Linked DNA regions of Homo sapiens. The protein of the gene in region 1 interacts with the protein of each later gene in a biochemical or structural test. Each region holds a gene or a part of one and is shown on either strand. Other genes may lie near its edges. The genes, in order: HABP4 and SRSF9.

Region 1 (9,562 bases):
TGGCCCCAAATATACCCCTACACCCCCCGCCCAAAAAATTGTGTTTTTGCTCCTGCTTAAGCAAAAACAAACCATAGACACTGCTTCCAGGGGCTGCTCCCTAGAGCGAGGGAACCGGGCAGCAGGAGGAGCATTGCCAAGACCAGCCACAGAGAAGGGGTCTGTGCCATGGGGCCTCGGGGCTGATTTCCAATGAATAAGTGTCCATACCACATTAGGAAGCACCTACTACATGCCAGGCACTGCGTGGCACTGCGTAAACCGGTAATGAGCAAAAGCAGCCGCTGACCGATAGCCACACCAGTGAGAATACAGCCGCACACGGAGATCAGGCTTCAATGAAAAGAAACTCCTTTGCTCCGAGACCTTGATCGGTCTAGGAGATGTGATCAAAGAAACCTGTGAGGAAGTGAGGCTGGAAGGATGAATGGAGGCCAGCAGGCAGAGGCCAGGGGTAAGGAGCGTGCTGTGTTGAGAGCTAGAATCAGGCAGCCTTGGCTGAGGACGGTGTGAGGCAGGTGAGCCGGGGAGGGGTTGAGGAAGGTCCCCTCACAAAGGGCTTGAGATCTTAGGGAGGATTCTGTCCACTCTGACAGCATCACCTGAGCCCAAGGCACACAATCAGGCCACAGTAAGCAAAACGTCAGGTGCTCCAGTTCAATCCCAAGCCTGGGGATCTTGTCTAATGCGGGTGACAGTGAGTTTCTCTCTGATCCCGGGAGTGCCTTCACAGCAGACCCTGGAAGCCAGGGCTACAGAACGGTCTCTAGGCAAGATGTCCATGATGCTACAACACCGTCCAAATGCCCCAACATCAGTCCCACACTAGCTACAGAAAGAAGTGACTGCAGAAACTCATGACCCTCTGAAATTAGACCATCCTGGGCCCAGGGCACTGTCCTTATTAACTTCTTTCGCCAAACCGTCAATACAGACACCTACCACCACTTCTGCTCTGGGTCCATAGTTCTCTGCCCTCCTGATCCTTCCCCGGCCTCCCCGGGTGCCTCCTCTGGCTCCACGCCCAGGACGAGGGAGGTTACCAAAATTAATCTCCAGCTGGGATGTGATGTCATTGGCGGGTTTCCGGAAAACATGGGAATCGTCCTCATAGTCATCTTTTACCATCTGAAACACAATTACAGCATCAAACACGCACAAGTCCACAGCCATCCCCACACTCATCTGGCTTAGTGGCTGCAGTGTGCTACACAGGAGCTAAAACACCATCAGGGGCTAGTCAGAGCCATTCTCTGGATTTGTCTCTGGCCCTGGGCTGCAGAGCTGGACAAAGGAAGACAGCACTGCTGTTCTGATTCTAAGACAGTGAGTTCTGTATGTTCTAGAGTCCCACATTCTTGCAATTACAATCTTAATCCAAACATCTTTGAACTTATTATGATTTCAAGTGGGACCAAATTTCTATCAGCTGAGCAGGTTAAGATATAAGATTTGGCATGACTAATAATAGCAAACAATATACATGTTTTATATCTAAGTGTATTTTGCTGAGATAAAAAAGTTTTCATTTCTGCTTATTTTCTGTCTTATCTGTTCACAAATGCTTTGATAAATAAGGAAATATCCCCTTCCCAGAACAGAACTTAACAGAGAAATTCCTTTCAGCATGGGTGCTGATTATAATACCATGTGCTAAAAATCACATGATTTATAATAAACAATTCTGACTCAAAATATAGAGAAACTTTATAAAAACAAGAGTATGGTTACCTGAGTGTTCTACCAACACTGCACAAAGAAGTCAAGCTGCTTTTTAAGAACTGCTTTCATTAAAATTCTATCTCTTGTGACAGCTATATTAAATAAATTAATTAAATCTGATCCAAATTTGATTTGGCTTCAACTCATAATAATGGGTATCACACACACACACACACAAAAACCCCACTTTAAGTAAAGTAAAAACCTACAGAAAGGAAGATATGTCAGTGATTTCAGATGAGAATCTCCAAAGTGCTACAACATTAAACATTCCTACAACCAGGAAATGGAGCAAAGTTTCCACGAGCATATCAACACCTTTAGGCCATATGCTCATGACAGCCTTCATGTTTAACATTTGTGTCCCCTTTGAGGTCTCAGGTTAAAATAAAGCAGAGGCTTTAGGTAGTTGGATGCTTAATGCTAAAAAGGTGAAGAAAAACAGTCCAGGAGCACTGGCATTCTGTAAAAAGATACACACAAAAAATAGTAACAGGCAAAATACTCAACCCTTGCCTTGTTTGGCACTCAGCAGGGAAGCGCTGGTAAGGTCTCCCTGGGGTCCCTGCTCTGAGTCGCCTCCCACTGCAGGAAGGGGCAGGAAGGGCCTCGGGGCAGTGGAGCAGGGAGTGGACACAGTCTAAGGCTTGGGCTCCACTTGCAGCTCCAGCTGGCCCTGGCCCAAGTGCTTTCACCGCCCAGTGCCTTACGCGAGGTTGTTACTAGGTCTGAACTTTGCTAGGTATTCTAGTGCTTCTGCCTCTTCAGGTGTCCAGAACAAAGTAAACTGATGAACCCAAGATCTGGCTTGTGTTGCTTTAAGAACAATTCCTAGCTAAAATCTTCAATCCTCCAAGATTAACAAGGACCAAGATGTGTGCTTCACTGAGACCAGGCTTGATGACTCAGCTAACCCACTTGCTTCAAATATTCTGGGAGACCTCTGGAGCCCGGGAGGACAAATCTGGTGTGGATTAAGAAAGAGCAGCTTCTATTTTTACCTAACATGTCAGCTGCATATTTCAATCCTGACAGCACATTTGTTTTAGAGAAATTTTTATTTACAATGCCTAGAACAAAAAAGAACAAAGGAAGTGGACAGGTTAAGAACCAACCCAGCTTGCTAATGGAGTTAGAAAACACCTCCCAGAGATTGCCAGGGAAATAAAGCTCCGGCCGCCTATGTCTACAAAAAGCCATTTCTTGTGGAACAGCTCAAAACTCAGTAAGGCCTCCTACAGCTTGGACTGACCAAAACAAGAGGATGGGAGAGAATCCTGTATCTTTTTTTTTGTTTTGTTTGGAGACGAAGTCTCACTTTGTTGCCCAGGCTGGAGTGCAATGGCGTGATCTCGGCTTGCTGCAACCTCTGCTTCCCGGGTTCAAGCGATTCTCCTGCCTCAGCCTCCCGAGTAGCTGGGACTACAGGCACCCGCCAACCGCCCGGCTAGTTTTTGTATTTTTAGTAGAGACAGGGTTTCACTATGTTGGCTAGGCTGGTCTCGAACTCCTGACCTCAGGTGATCCACCTGCCTTGGCCTCCCAAGAACCCTGTATCTTAAATGACACCTAATCAAAGTACTCACTCAGAAAATGAAACTAACCAAAGTGTAAATGACAACTCTACAATAGCATAACATTCCTGAGATTCCACATGAAAATCAATAACTAATACCCCACAGAGAGGAAGAACCTGCTACCTGCTCACTCCCACCTCGAAATAGTGACTGGTATCAAGCTGTAGATGGAATGATACAGATTCTAAATCCCATAATGGGAATGCTTCAGTGGACCTAGCCTTAAGTTCAGTAACAAGTCGGGGACTTGATGACCCCATGGCATCCCTATCAACATATGCTGCTAGATGTTTCCCCGAAACCTCTCCCTGCAAAACTGAAGCTTCTGAGAAGAGCTGGACGTAAGCCGTGAGCAATAAGGCCTCACAACACGGAGGAGCTCCCTGAGCAACCCCTGCAGCACGCTGGCCGCTGTGGCAGTGCCTGACCGAGCAGCCAAGCGTTCGGGGACTCATCTCCCGCCACGTCTGCAGTTAGGCAGGGGGCGCAAAGCTGCTGAACCAACATGGGAAAGGCGTCAGAAGTGCATGGAACCTCAACCACAGTTTAAAAAGTCATCAACTACTCGGCCAGGTGCAGTGGCTCACGCCTGTAATCCCAGCACTTTAGAAGGCTGAGGCTGGTGGATCACCTGAGGTCGGGAGTTCAAGACCAGCCTGACCAACATGGAAAAGCCCCGTCTCTACTAAAAATACAAAATTAGCCGGGGTGGTGGCGCATGCCTGTAATCCCAGCTACTTGGGAGGCTGAGGCACGAGAATCGCTTGAACCCGGGAGGCGGAGGTTGCGGTGAGCCAAGATCGCGCCACTGCACTCCAGCCTGGGCAACAAGAGCGAAACTCCATCTCAAAAAAAAAAAAAAGTCATCAACTACTCAGTGAAATGCTCTTATCAAGAAACAGAGTTGAAAGTAACCTACTCAGGGGACACAGAGTGTAGTTCTCCTTTGATTAACTCTGAATTGTACAAGACACAATCTGTAACTCTCCCTTGAGAAAAATGAAATACAGTTAATACACAGTATGTGTACAGTACCCGCATAGTCCCAGGGTGAGCAGAAGATGCACTGTCACTCTAACTGCTCTGTGCATCTGTCAATACCTCAAGTTTCAATTCCTTTTCTTAATGAACAATACAGTAAAATTAGGCATGCATCATCTCTGATTAGAAACAAAGACTGCCAACTACTAATGTTCCATTTTCAAGACAGAAGTGGAAAGGTACATTTCACTTCCAGTAAGGTAAAAGTAAAGATTACCTCTACATACGAAATGCAATGCTTACATCATCTCTGTATTTTGACTTGTGAATCACCACGGCTTTGGAAGGAACAGTGGATTCTGGTTTCCGGATGTTAAACTCAGGCTTTGGTCTGGTCTGTTCTTGAAGATTTTTCCACTCATCTAAAGTCATCTCTTGAACTTGGGTTTCTTCTTCTACCTCCAACTCAGGAACTCTATAAAGAGATATATAATCATAAAGAATACTTTTTGATGGTACTAAAATGTCTACTTTATAAAGAAAAAGTTATAACCATTAATTCAACATATTTTTGTGGTACTGCATTTCAAATGCAAATAAGGTAAGGAAATCTTTGACTCACAAGCTTCCATATTTCATTTTCAACATTTTATGTCATCACTGCCAACAGAAGATACTTCCTATCTGTGTTCAAATCAATCTTTGAAAAATGGGAACATCACCATCCTGATGACATTAACATCACACTTCACCACTGGCACTCCCTTCCAGACAGCATGACAGACAAAATGAGGTAATTATGGACAATGGGTTGAAATAAAATACAGGAAACCATAAACAAGTTTTAAAGCAGTGGCTCATGAATGCATACTTTTGCAAATATCCTCTTTAATGAGTTTTAAAAAGAAAACAAAAGACAGAAATATAGATTGAGAGCAAAGAATTCAGAGTCCAGAAATAAACCCTCACATTTACGGTCAACTGATTTTTTTTTTCCAACCGTGGTGCCAAAGACAATTCAATGGAGAATGAAAAGTATTTTCAACAAACGGTGCTTGGGCAACTGGATATCCACACACACCAAAAGAAAGAATGAAGTTAGACCTACCTCACACCATAAATACAAGAGCTAAAATATAAAACTCTTAGCAGAAAACCTAGGCAGAAACTTTCTTAACCCTGGACTGGGCAATGGTTTCTTCCACATGACACCAAAAAAACAAGCAACAAAAGTACATACATTGAACATCATCAGATACTTTTATACTACAAAGGACACCATCAAGAAAGTAAAAAGACAGTCCACAAAATGGGATAAAATATTTACAAATAATATATCTCACAAGGGACTTGTATCTAGAATACATAAAGAATTCTTTATGAACAGCCAAGCGTGGTGGCTCATGCCGATAGTCCTAGCTACTCAGGGGGCTGAGGTGGGAGGATCGCTTGAGGCCAGGCATCTGAGGCTGCAGTGAGCTATGATCACACGTGTGAATGGCCACTGTGTTCCACCTTGGGCAACAGAATGAGACACTGTCTCTTTAAAAAAAAAAAAAAGAATGCTTTATGAATTCTAGATACAAGTCCTCTTTAGTTGAGACAAATGACCACCCTCCCCCCAAAAAAGGCAAGGATCTGAGTGAACATTTTTCCAGAGAAGATATACAAATAGGCAGTAAGATGTTGCACATCATTAGCTATTAGAGAAAGACAAGTCAAAACCACAGAGCTGCACCAGTCCACACCCAGTGGGATGGTTAGAACCAAAACGACATTTGACAAGCGTTGGGGAGGATGTGGAGAAACTGGAACCCACATACACTGCCAGTGGGAATGTGAAATGGTGTAGCCTCTTTGGAAAGCAGTCTGGCGGTTCCTCAAAAATCTAAGCTGAGTTAGCCTCTGACCCGGAAATTTCACTCCTGGGTTTATACCCAAGAGAAATGAAAACACACATCCACATGAAAACTTAAACCCAAGTGTTCACTGCAGTGCTATTCATAATAGCCAAAAAGTGGACACAACCTAAATGTCTATTAACTAATGAGTGGATAAACCAAATATGGCACATTTTTTGGAATATTATCTGGCAATAAAAAGAAACAAAGTATTAATACACATTACGACATGAACAAACCTTGAAAAAATGATGCAAGTGAAATAAACCAGGCAGAAAAGACTTCTGTGTATGATTCCATTTACATGAAATATTCAGAGGAGCCAGATTCACACAGACAGGAGGCAGGTCAGTGGTGGCCAGGGCTGCAGGGAGGGAGGATAGGGAGTGACTGCTGAATGGGCATGGGGTTTCCTTTTGGGATGATAACAACCTTCTGGAGCCAGATCATGGTGATGGTTGCATAACACTCTGAATGTACTAAATGCCACTGAATTGTACACTTTAAAAGGATTAAAATCGTAGATTTGAAAATCATCACAAAAATACACACAAAAAAAGAAAAACAGAAATGAAGACTGGCACATGCTACAACATGAATGAAGCTGAAAACTTGATGCTAATAGTTAAAATAAGCCAGGTGCAAAAGGAACATTGAACGATTCCACTTAGATGAGGCACCTAGAATAGGCAAATTCATAAACACGAGTAAAATAGAGATTACTACATGCTGAGGAGAAATGGGGAGTTAGTGTTAAATGGATATAGAGTTTCTGTTTGTGATGAAAAAGTTCTACAAGGCCAGGCACAGTGGCTCAAGCCTGTAATCCTAGCACTTTGGGAGGCTGAGGCAGGCGGATCATGAGGTCAGGAGTTCGAGACCAGCCTGGCCAATACGGTGAAACCCCGTCTCTACTAAAAAATACCAGAAAAATTAGCCGGGTGTAGTGGAATGTGCCTGTAGTCCCAGCTACTCAGGAGGCTGAGGCAGGAGAATCGCTTGAACCCGGGAGGTGGAGGTTGCAGTGAGCCGAGATCGCACCACTGCACTCCAGCCTGGACAACAGAGTGAGATTCCATCTCAAAAAAAAAAAAAAAGTTCTAGAGATGGATGGTGGTGATGGTTACACACAATATGAATGTTACTGATGCCATTAAATTATATATATTAAAATGGTAAAAATGGCAATTTTTATGTTATTTTTACTGCAATTTTAAAAAATTAATAATGTAACATACCCCAAACCATCCATCCATGCATTCAGTCGTTTACTCATTTATTTGTTTGATACAGGCTGGGTTTCACTCTGTTGGCCAGGCTGGAGTACAGTGGCATGATGATGGCTCACCATACCTTCAACCTCCTGAGCCCAAGGATCCTCCCACCTCAGCTTCCTGAGAGTAGCTGGGACTACAGGTACGAGCCATCAGGCCCAGCTAATTTTTACAACCATTTTGTAGAGACGGGGTCTCTCCATGTAGCCCATGCTGGTCTTGAACTCCTGGCCTCAAGCTATCCTCCTGCCTCTGCCTCCCAAAGTGTTGGGATTACAGATCTGAACCACCACACCTGGCCTATATACTTAGAGATTTGAGTGCTATAGTACGAGAATTATATCTCAAAAGTGTTTAAGGGGAAAAAACAGGCCGGGCGCGGTGGCTCACACCTATAATCCCAGCACTTTGGGAGGCCGAGGCAGGTGGATCATGAGGTCAGGTGTTCAAGACCAGCCTGACCAACATGGTGAAACCCCGTCTCTACTAAAAATACAAAAATTAGCTGGGTGTGGTGGCACACGCCTGTAATCCCTGTAATCCCAGCTACTCGGGAGGCTGAAGCAGGAGAATTGCTTGAACCCGGGAGGCGGAGGTTGCAGTGAGCCAAGATGGCACCACTGCACTCCAGCCTGGGCGACAGAACAAGACTCTTTCTCCAAAACAAAACAAAACAAAACAGTAGGTGGGGAGTGGGGAATCAAATCTGTATCTTCACTGAAGAGCTGATGTAATTTAAGGTTCTATTATAGAAATACACAGATCAATGTTATGAAAAATATAAGCAAAATCAGTAGAGAAACCTAACCACAGAGCATCCAAAATAGACAAATTTGCAGTGACTCTACAATACCAAGCTGATGGTAGAAAAAACATCAAAGCAAAGATAACATGAAGGAATATGAAAGAACTTTCTGGCGTGATTGGTAATGTTCTGTATTCGACAGGAGTTTGGATTCCACAAGTACATGCATTTGTCAAAACAGTGAATGTACACTTAAGATTTATACATTTCATAGTATATACATTTTATATCAGAAGAAAAAATTGTAAACAAATATTAATTCTATTTAGTGATATGCATGTTGAACTATTTAGGGGGAAGTGTACAGATGTCTACAATTTATTATGAAATGTGTCAAAAAACATGGACTAATGAATACTTATGTAAAATGAATATATAAGATATAAATGGTAGCATTTAGGTAGTGGTAAGTATAGATGTTCGCTATAAAATTCTTTAAACTTTGCTGTGTTTTGAAATTTTCACAATAAAATGCTGGAAAAATACCAATATCAAAATATAGATCTCAAATATATATTGGCAAAAATATTAAAAGATACTAAGACATTGGAACAGCAAATTAATGGAAATAACCCAAACCTATCTAGAAAAGAACTTGGTGAAAAAACTATAGTATAGCAGCTAAAAAAGGAATGAGGACTATCTGTATATACTGCTATGGAGCACCTTCCAGAGTGAATGAGAAAAAAGCAAGGAGGGGTGTACAGTACCTTGGAGAGCCACACAAATATATATGCATAGCACCGATAGAGATAGATAGTTTTTTTGTTTTGTTTTGTTTTGAGACAGGGTCTCACTCTGTCACCCAGGCTGGAGTGCGGTGGTATGATCTCTGCTCACTGCAACCTCCACCTCCTGGGCTCAAGGGATCCTCTCACTTCAGCCTCCAGAGTAGCTGGGACTACAGGCATGCACCACCATACCCAGCTAATTTTTGTATTTTTTGTAGAGACTGGGTGGGGGAGGGTCTCACTTGTTGCCTAGGCTGGTCTCAAACTCCTAGGCTCAAGCAATCCACCCACTTTGGCCTCCCACAGTGCTGGGATTACAGGCATGAGCCACCGCACCCGGCCAGCATTTTTTTTAAATTGGAATATAAGCCAGGAAAACAATAGGGATAAAAGCTATTTGAAAATACCATGTTTTGGCTGGGCACGGTGGCTCCTGTCTGTAAACCCAGCACTTTGGGAGGCCAAGGCCAGTTGATCACCTGAGGTCAGGAGATCGACACAGGCCTGGCCAACATGGTGAAATCCCGTCTCTCCTAAAAATACAAAAATTAGCTGGGCATGGTGGCAGGCA
Region 2 (9,540 bases), on another chromosome or scaffold:
TAGAAAACTCCTTTACAAGAAATATGGTTATGTTCTTCCAAGGCTGCACTCCCAGCGCAATTTCATTTGCAGGATACTTTCCTCATTGGCAATCCAGGGCAAGGCTTCACACAGGCTATTGAAAAGAAAGCCCCCGTGTCCCATGCACTGAAGAATAACAGCTATCATTTCTTGGAAGACAGACTCTGTGTTAAGTATTTTACATGTATCATCTCATTCTGTTTGAAAGGAACATACCTGAAACAAGAACTCGGAAATCAGATCTTCTTGTAGGAGGCCCATTCCTCCCACCACGGGGCCACCCACCCCGACCTCCATAAGTCCTGGGGAACTCCACACGAAGCCGACACTGGCCATAATCATAACCATTTCTTCCATAAATAGCATCCTCTGCATCTCTAAAAAAAACAACAACAACAAAAAAAACGTTTGGAGTTAGTGCTGTTCAGGAGGCCAAGTGACTTTCCAAGTGAGGGGCATGAGTAGTAAGCATAAAAGGGAAACCTAGAGTGAAGAAAAAAACACACAAATCAGGATCCTGAAGCACTTCTGCTTTGGTTTGGAGACGTTTCATGATACTGGAATTAACCTTTACAGCTGTCACACGCAGTTTTAGAGGTATGAAATTATAATGAATGAGCAAACAGATTACTCATAAGAGGGCTAATTCAGAGAAAAAAAAGAATCAACTGCTGACAGATTATTGATTTTGCCAATAAACCATCAGTGTTTTTCTAATCTTCGTGAGCATTTTCTCGAAAAGCACACCACACACTAACCCCTTAATATTTTTCTACAAAGCCTAGTGCCATAAAGTCTATGGAAATAAAAAGTAGGCGGTTAGCCAGGCATGGTGTTGCACGCCTGTAGTCCCAGCTACTTGAGAGGCTGAGATGGGAGTGCAGAGCCAAGATCACACTACTGTACTCCAGCCTGGGTGACAGAGACCCTGTCCCAAAAAACAGGAAAAAAAAAGTAGCCAGTTAGATAGGAGAGTATTTGAGGGTAAATAAAGTAGCTGGGCATGATGTTTGAGCCCAGGTCAGGCCAGCCTGGGTAATATAGTGAGACCCGGTCTTTTAAAAAAATAAATAAATAAGGCTCAAAGGACAAAAGAAAAATGCAAATGAGTGTTTTGTGATGAATGTGGAACTTTTTTTTTTTTTGAAACGGGGTCTTGCTCTGTCACCAAGGCTGAGTGCAGTGGCTGGAGCATAACTCACAGCAGCTTCTAACTCTTGGGCGCAAGCAATCCTCCCACCTCAGCCTCCTGAATAGCTAGGGCCACAGGCGTGTACCACTGCACCCAGCTAATTTTTGGATTTTTTGTAGAGACAGGTCTCCCTCTGCTGGCCAGCCTGGTCTTGAACTCCTGGGCTCAGGCGATCCTTCCCCTCAGTCTCCCAAAGTGCTAGGATTACAGGCATAAGCCACTGCGCCTGGCCTTGGAACTCTAAGTGTACCTTTTCAGCATGGTTTGGAGAACTATTTTTGTCAAAAAACATTCTTTGGATACAATTTTGCCAAAAGAGATAAATATTCAATAAAATTACTTTAAGTCTTTCCTAGGACTCTAGGAGAGTCAGGAATGCCACGTTGATTCTCCAGTATTGGATGGTAGAAAGTGTGACCTTGGAGCTTGGGTGGACAAGAGGAGCTGAATGTGCTAATGAAGGCATTGTTCAGTGTCACAGGCACATAATCACTTGTAAGATTTTAGAACTAAAAGCAACAATGACCATATCCAGTGCAACCTTGACTACGTAAAATGCAGACTGGGAGAGGCAGAACTGCTAGGAGGTCAGAACAACTCTGAATAAAAACTGGCCAGCATTCAGGCCAGGCGCTGTGGCACATGCCTGTAATCCCAGCACTTTGGGAGGTGGATCACTTGAGGTTAGCAGCTTGAGACCAGTCTGGGCAACCTGGTGAAACCCCTCGTCTCTACTAAAAAGATAAAAATTAGCTGGGCATGGCATCGCGCAGCTGTAATCCCAGCTACTCAGGAGGCTGAGGCACGAGAATCTCTTGAACCCAGGAGGCGAAGGTTGCAGTGAGCTGAGACTGTGCCGCTACACTCCAGCCTGCACGACAGAGCCAGACTCCATCTCAATAAATACAATAAATAAATAAAATTAGCCTGCATTCAAATCACTATTCTGCAAATTACTAGTAGTCATCTCTGGGTAAGTGTTTAATCAAGTTTTTACATCTCTAATGTGAACAGTATGCCTATCTCACAGGGTTATTGTAATGGTTAAATAAGATACTACATGAAATGCTTTGCTTGAATCTTCACATCTAGTGACACCAAAAGATAGTTTTTCTATTATGAAAGGAATGAGGGAAGATGACAATGTAGCGTATCATATAGTAAGTTTGCATTCGAAAAACAGAAGAGGGAGTTCAAATCCATTGATCCCGGCCTGGCGTGGTGGCTCAGGCCTGTAACCTCAGCATTTTGGGAGGCTGAGGTGGGTGGATCACTTGAGGTTAGGAGTTCAAGACAAACCTGGCCAACATGGAGAAACCCCGTATCTGCTGAACATAGAAAAATCAGCCAGGCATGATGGCGGGCGCCTGTAATCCCAGCTACTGGGAAGCTGAAGCGGGAGAATCGCTTGAACTCAGGTGGCGGAGGTTGCGGTGGGCCGGGATCGCACCACAGCACTCCAGCCTGGGCAACAAGAGTGAAGACCTGTCTCAAAAAAAAAAAAAAAATAGTACCTACACCTCATAAATTGTTAAAAATACTAAATACAGGCTGGGCGGGTTGCTCACGCCTGTAATCCTAACAATTTGATCCGCTGAGACGGGAGAATCACCTGAGCTCAGGAGTTCCAGACCAGCCTGAGCAACATGGTGAAACCCCTAATTTATCAATCTAAAAAAATAAGAAGGAAAGAAAAAAAGCTAAATACACACCATGGCACTTGACCCATAGCAACTGTTGAAAAACCACAATGGCACGGTTACTAAATAAGCGAGGCATAGCCTTCTCCGGCTTAGGGGTAAAAATGCCCAGTTCCGGTTTTGAGGCAAATGAGGAGATACTAGGGATGAGCTGTCAGAGTCGACTCTTCAGCCATCAACGCCTCGCGGTGCTTCCTGCCTGCCCTTCCTCAGATGCTCCCCTTGCCCTATCAATACGTCCACCCCAGGTAGGTCGGACACCCTACGAACATTCCGCGTTCCCCGGGAGCAAATGATGCTAGGAAAACAGGGTGCGGGCTCTTATTTGGCCGGAGTGGAGTGACCAGGTCAGCGCCGCAGCTGCTAACCACCACCAACCACAGTTTTGAAAGTTCCTGGGCTTTTTCCGGCCTGAGGGCCGACGCTGTTTGCAAAATCACAAGCACTCCTTAGAGCGGGGTTAGGAATCTAGAGTTTCCAAATCCCTGGAACCTTTAGCATCTCGCCAAGCCTCCCTCATCAAAGGAGGGAAGTGAAATCAGAGCCCCACTCCGGCTGTTTTAGAAGTTTTCCCGAATCCGTGATCCCTTTACAAAGCCCGGGCCCTGGCCTGCGGGGCGGGGCGCGCGAACGGCGAGCTATTCCACCAGAGATCCCTCCACGACCTCCAGCGGCATCCGCGACCCTGCAGCTTGCTCTCCAGCCACGGCGAGCACGGGCCGGGGGAGAGGCGAGCGGGAAGGGCGAACGGCGACCCCCGCGCTGCCCCGCGGCCGCTTCCCCCTACGGTGCTGCCCCAGGCAGGAGGCGGACAAGGCTCATTTGGACCCCCCGAGGCCGGTGCAGGCGGGCTTGGGCCCTCCAAAGGCTCAGCTTTTGGGTTTCTAAGTAAAATATTGGAATAATAAAAATAAAGGAAGTGACGACGGCGCGAAGGACGGCCCGGGCCTGCGAGGAGAGGCTGCCTCATCCTCCACCCGTGAGGGGGCGCCGTGAGGGGTCTGCGCGGAGGCGGGGGGAGGGGAGGCCGGGGGGAGGGGAGCCCTGGGGGAGGGGACAGCAGGGAAGGCGGGGGCCTCAGGCACCGAGGAGGAGAGGGCAGGGGCGCGGGGGCCTCACCGGGGGTCCTCGAAGCGCACGAAGGCGAAGGGCACGAGGCCGTGCCGGTTCTTGAGCTCGATCTCGCGGATGCGGCCGTACTTGTAGAACAGGTCCTCCAAGTCCTTCTCGCGCACGTCGGTCGGAAGGTTCCCCACGTAGATGCGCCCGTCGCCCTCGCCGCCGCGCTCGTCCGCCCAGCCCGACATCCGCACCGCCCGACGCCGCGGGCCCGCCGCAGCCCACGTCGCCGCCGCCGCCTCAGCACGGGTCCCCCCGCAGCGTCCCCGCGGGCTCCGAGGCGCTCAGCCGCACTGCATTGTGGGAACGCGGAGCGGAAGCGAAGGGGTCGGCGGAGGCAAAAGGAGTCCTCTTAAAGAGAACGCGGCTGCGACCATTGCGCGTGCGCGCAGGCCGGCGCCCCCTGGAGGTGCGAAGGGCCTTCGGGCGCTGACAGGGAGAGCCTGGGGCCGGGCCGTGTGGATGCCATCCCCGAGCGCGGTTCGCGCTCGGCTGAGGCGCTGGACAAGTGGCTTGGGCTCCCGCGCCTCAGTTTCTCTCTGTGGCGCCGCCTACCTCACAGACTTGTGAGCACTCACTGACGTGGGTAGCGCCCAGGGCCTGCGGGGCGCAGGAGAGCTGGAGTCAGGCGGAGACCGCAGGCTGACCCCGCAGCGGCCGGGCTGTCGCGGCCCCCACCTCAGGTCAGTAGGCCCCCGGGCCACCCTGTCCCCATTTTACAGTTGCTCAGAACTGACGGTGTCAGCATGAGATGGACTCCATAGCTTGGCCTTGAGTTTGTCGGAGTCGAGGGAGTAAGACTCTTAATGAGTATCACAGCGATCACTATAGAGTGCATCCGACTTGTGCTTTTCATCCTCTCCCGGGCAGAGTCTGAGGCCACAGAGGGGTCAGGAATGGAACCCAGAGCCATGCTCCCATCCTAAGTACTGAGTCCTTATGGAGCTCAGGTAGACACCCACCTTGGCACTTACTTTTCCACATTCACATCCCAGAACGCGGAGCATTGAACCCAGGGACCTTACAGTGAGGCCTTGCACCAGAAGACTTTTTGTTTGTTTTTGATACAGGGTCTTATTCTGTTGCTCAGGCTGGAGTGCAATGGCGCGAACACGGCTCACTGCAGTCTCGATCTCGCTGGACTCAGGTGATCCTCCCACCTCGGGGCGCCGTGAGGGGTCTGCGCTGCGTCCAGCTAGTTTATTTTCTATTTTTTTTGTAGAGAGGCTGGTCTCGAACTCCTGGGCTCAACCGATCCTCCAGCCTTGGCCTCCCAAAGTGTTGGATTACCGGCTTGAGCCCGGCGCCCGGCTGGAATACTCCTAACCTAAAGATTGTTCAGGCTGGGTGCGGTGGCTCACGCCTGTAATCCCAACACTTTGAGAGGCCAAGGCGGGAGGATCACTTGAGGTCAGTAGTTCGAGACTAGCCTGGGCAACATGGGGAAACCCCGTTTCTACTAAAAATACAAAAATTAGCTGGGCGTGGTGGCGTGTTCCTATAATCCCAGTTACGCGGGAGGCTGAGGCAGGAGAATTGCTTGAGCCCGGGAGGCGAAGGTTGCAGTGAGCCGAGATCATGCCACTGCACTTCAGCCTGGGTGACAGAGTGAGACTGTCTCAAAAATAAATAAAGATTTTTCATATTAAAAATGAAACCTGGCTGGGCGTGGTGGCTCATGCCTGTAATCCCAGCACTTTAGGAGGCTGAGGTGGGTGGATCACTTGAGGCCAGGAGTTCAAGACCAGCCTGGCCAACATGGCAAGACCCGCCCCCCTACTAAAAATACAAAAAAAAAAAAAAATTAGCCAAGCTTGGTGGCACGCCTGTAGTCCCAGCTGCTTGGGAGGATGAGGCACGAGAATCGCTTGAATCTGGGAGGCAGAGGTTGCAGTGAGCCGAGATTGTGCCACTGCACTCCTCCAGCCTGGGTGACAGAGGGAGACTCTGTCTCAAAAACAAGACAAAACAAAAACAAACAAAAAAAGGGACTAAAACCACACATTTAATCAGAAGGTAGTTGATTTCTCATTATACCATCTGAGCATTTTAAAATCAAAACAAACCAAAGACTAGACACCCACATATACTACTGAGTGTATATCTTTTTTGGAATACAAGTTGATAGTATACATCAGGCTTTCATAATATACATATACCCTTCGATCTTGTAATTCTGCTTGTAGGATTTTTTGTTTGTTTGTTTTGAGACGGAGTCTTACACTGTCACCCAGGCTGCAGTGCAGTGGCGTGATCTCGGCTCACTGCAAGCTCCGCCTCCCAGGTTCATGCCATTCTCCCGCCTCAGCCTCCTGAGTAGCTGGGACTACAGGTGCCTGCCACCACGCCCGGCTGATTTTTTTATATTTTTAGTAGAGACAGGGTTTCACCGTGTTAGCCAGGATGATCTCAATCTCCTGACCTCGTGATCCGCCTGCCTCAGCCTCCCAAAGTGCTGGGAATACAGGCGTGAGCCACCGCGCCCAGCTGCTTGTAGGATTTTTATCAGACGGAAATAAGCAAGAGATTCTCATAATAAATTACATGTGTATATTTATCATTGCATTCTGTGCAATTAAAAAAATTAAACTTGATAATAAGGGAGTGGCTCAACACATTAACTTTGAATGTTACACAATTATTAAGTCATGTTTTTAATATGACAGAGATATTAAAGTCACAGTAATTTACAGTTAAAGTGAATTGAAAGTGGTGTTTAATGTATACACATATATAGTGTATTTGCTGCTTGTAACAAAAAAAAAATAGAAAAAGCTTTCCAAATGTTGTGGTTGTGGAGATATCTCTTGATGGCAGTGATTTCTATGTTTTTATTTATGCTTTTCTGTATTTCTCAAATTGTAATTAGCATGCACTACTTTTATAATTGGAATAAAACATAATAAATGATTCCTAAAATAAAACCATTATAACTATCTGTTGTATTCTGGATTATGTAAAGCATCTAGCTGTTCTCTAGACAAGCAGGAAAGAGCCCTGGCCAAATATGATCTCGAGTCTAAGTGTGCAGCCTTATAGGAGCTTACATATCCTATAGGCATCCGAAAGTCCAGATGCCTTCTCATTTTGGGTGGTGTGCTTAGGTGTATTAATACCATTCTCTGAGTCCTACCACTCCTATGTGATTGTTGCCTGGAAAGACAAAAAAGGAAAAAAAAGTGCTGTTGGAGACAATTGGGCAGTCTCCTAGGGAGAGAGAAATAGAGTCAGCTAAGTGACTCAATAGGACTGTAGGTGGAAAACTGCTTGCAAATAATAATAATTCAGCTTTAATTGTGCAATGTCCTGCAGCATACAATCTCCAAAGGAGTTCAGTTACCCAGCAGAAAATGTAGGGATGTGGTTAGTACAGGCTTCTTGGATTAGATAGAGCACAGCTAAATCCTTAGGAGGCATTTATGATCATCCATGAAACCCCCTTTATTCCTGTACTGACCTTTGCAGTTAGAACACAAATGAGACCACAATTATGACTTCATGTTCAAAGGGTTCATAGGTTCCATTCTCTGCTAAGGCCAGAGACTCTAGGCAGGGACACCTTTTAAACTTTTTGTTCATCTAGATATTCAACATTATTTATGATTTAGGTCCTGTATGAGGCCCAGGGCATGCAATAATACAGCTCTGTCCTTGAGTTGTGTATATAGGTTGCTATTCGGTCATGTAGAGTACAGTTGTGATAAGGATAAGCTGCTTGAGACTACATCGGAGGGTCACCTACCACAGTCTTAGAGATTCTAAGGAAGGCTTCTGGGAGGAGATGTTTAGAGTCTTGAAGAACCAGTAGGAGTTAACCAGGGGGAAGAGGGAAGGGCATTTCAGACAAAAATGAGGGCATGACTGCTGAGTGCAGTGGCAGTAATCCCAGCACTTTGGGAGGCTGAGGCAGGAGGATGGCTTGAGTCCAGGAGTTTGAGACCAGGCTAGGCAATGTAGTGAGACCCCTATCTCTACAAAAAACTTAAAAATTGCCAGGCCCAGTGGCTCATGCCTGTAATCCCAGCACTTTGGGGAGGTCAAGGTGGGTGGATCACTTGAAGTCAGGAGTTCGAGACCAGCCTGGTCAACATGGCAAAACCTCATCTTTACTAAAAACACAAAAATTAGTCGGAGGTGGTGGCGCACACCTGTAATCCCAGCTACTTTGGAGGCTGAGGCAGGAGAATTGCTTGAACCCGGGAGGCAGAGGTTGCAGTGAGCCGAGATTGCGCCACTGAACTCCAGCCTGGTCAACACCGAGACTCTGTCTCAAAAAAAAAAAAAAAAAAAAATTAAAAAATTATCTAGGCATGGTAACGTGCACCTGTGGTCTCAGCTACTTGATCTCGAACTCTTGAGCTCAAGTGATCCGCCCATCTCGGCCTCCCAAAGTGCTGGGATTACAGGCATTAGCCACGGCACCTGACAGTCCCAGCTACTTAAGAGGCTGAGGTGGGAGGACTGCTTGAGCCTGGGAGGTTGAAGCTGTAGTTAGCCATGATTGCACCACTGCACTCCAGCCTGGGCAACAGAGTGAGACTCTGTCTCAAAACATAAAAAAGGACACCATGAGAAATCACCCAAATAGGAGAGAGAGTAGCAGACCAGGGAAAATCCCTACTGGTGTGACTGGGGCAAGGAGTTCAAGCAGGGAAGAAGAGAGAAGGAGCTGAGGCACCACCAGCCTGGGCAACATGTTAAAACCCCGTCTCTACAAAAAATACAAAAATTAGCTGGGCATGGTGGCACACACCCATAGTCCCAGCTACTTGGGAGGCTGAGGGGGGAGAATCACTTAAGCCCAGGAGGCAGAGGTTGCAGTGAGCCAATATTGCACCGCTGCACTCCAGCCTGGGCGACAGAGTGAGATCCTGTTACAGAAATGGGCTTGTCCTTCTTTTCACCAAACTGAAAAGAAGCCTTTGATGTTGGCAGACTATTAAGAATTAATGCAGTTCCCACAGCAAGCCATTTATTCTCCACCAGAGTGTAGGGCAGTGCCCAACTGAAAAAAACAACATAAAAAAAAAAAAAAATCCCAAAACCAACAACAGCTCGGGTGATGAGTGCATGAAAATCTCAGAAATCACCACTAAATAACTTAAAGAACTTATCCATATAACCAAACACCACCTGTTCCCCAAAAACCTATTGAAATAAAAATTTAAAACAAACAAAAAACCAACAACGCCAGGCATAAAACATGCTGCAAACCTGCCCATCTGGTTTTCTCCTTTTCTCTGTGACATCAGTCCCCTCTGGCATCCCAGCAAAATATTTTCCTCTCTGTCAGGCTCAGTCATGAGCTCCTCCCAGACCTTGGCCCTAGGTATCAGTGGGCAGAGAGGAAGTGATGGGGGAGTAGACCATCTGAGAAGATGAGGAACTGGTCCCGCCTGGCAGGAGAGCTATGGAATGAGTCACTGGGAAACGTGTTCCTGGTCACAGCACCCTGGGAGCTTTCTCTGTCATTCTCTACCACTGTACTTGTGTGATGGAGTAAAATAA

Evidence for each region.
Region 2: the proteins of HABP4 (region 1) and SRSF9 form a complex in vitro, tested with the Homo sapiens proteins (one study listed by BioGRID).

What each region holds. Positions count from the first base shown.
Region 1 is NC_000009.12:96,479,655-96,489,216, reverse strand, and holds part of HABP4 (intracellular hyaluronan-binding protein 4), read right to left. Parts: intron 4,756-9,562; coding exon 4,584-4,755; coding exon of another isoform or gene 4,560-4,583; exon of another isoform or gene 4,558-4,559; intron 1,129-4,557; coding exon 943-1,128; intron 1-942. UniProt on the Homo sapiens protein: Ribosome-binding protein that promotes ribosome hibernation, a process during which ribosomes are stabilized in an inactive state and preserved from proteasomal degradation.
Region 2 is NC_000012.12:120,465,390-120,474,929, forward strand, and holds the start of SRSF9 (serine/arginine-rich splicing factor 9), read right to left. Parts: upstream 4,360-9,540; 5' UTR 4,221-4,359; coding exon 4,033-4,220; intron 399-4,032; coding exon 238-398; intron 1-237. UniProt on the Homo sapiens protein: Plays a role in constitutive splicing and can modulate the selection of alternative splice sites. Represses the splicing of MAPT/Tau exon 10.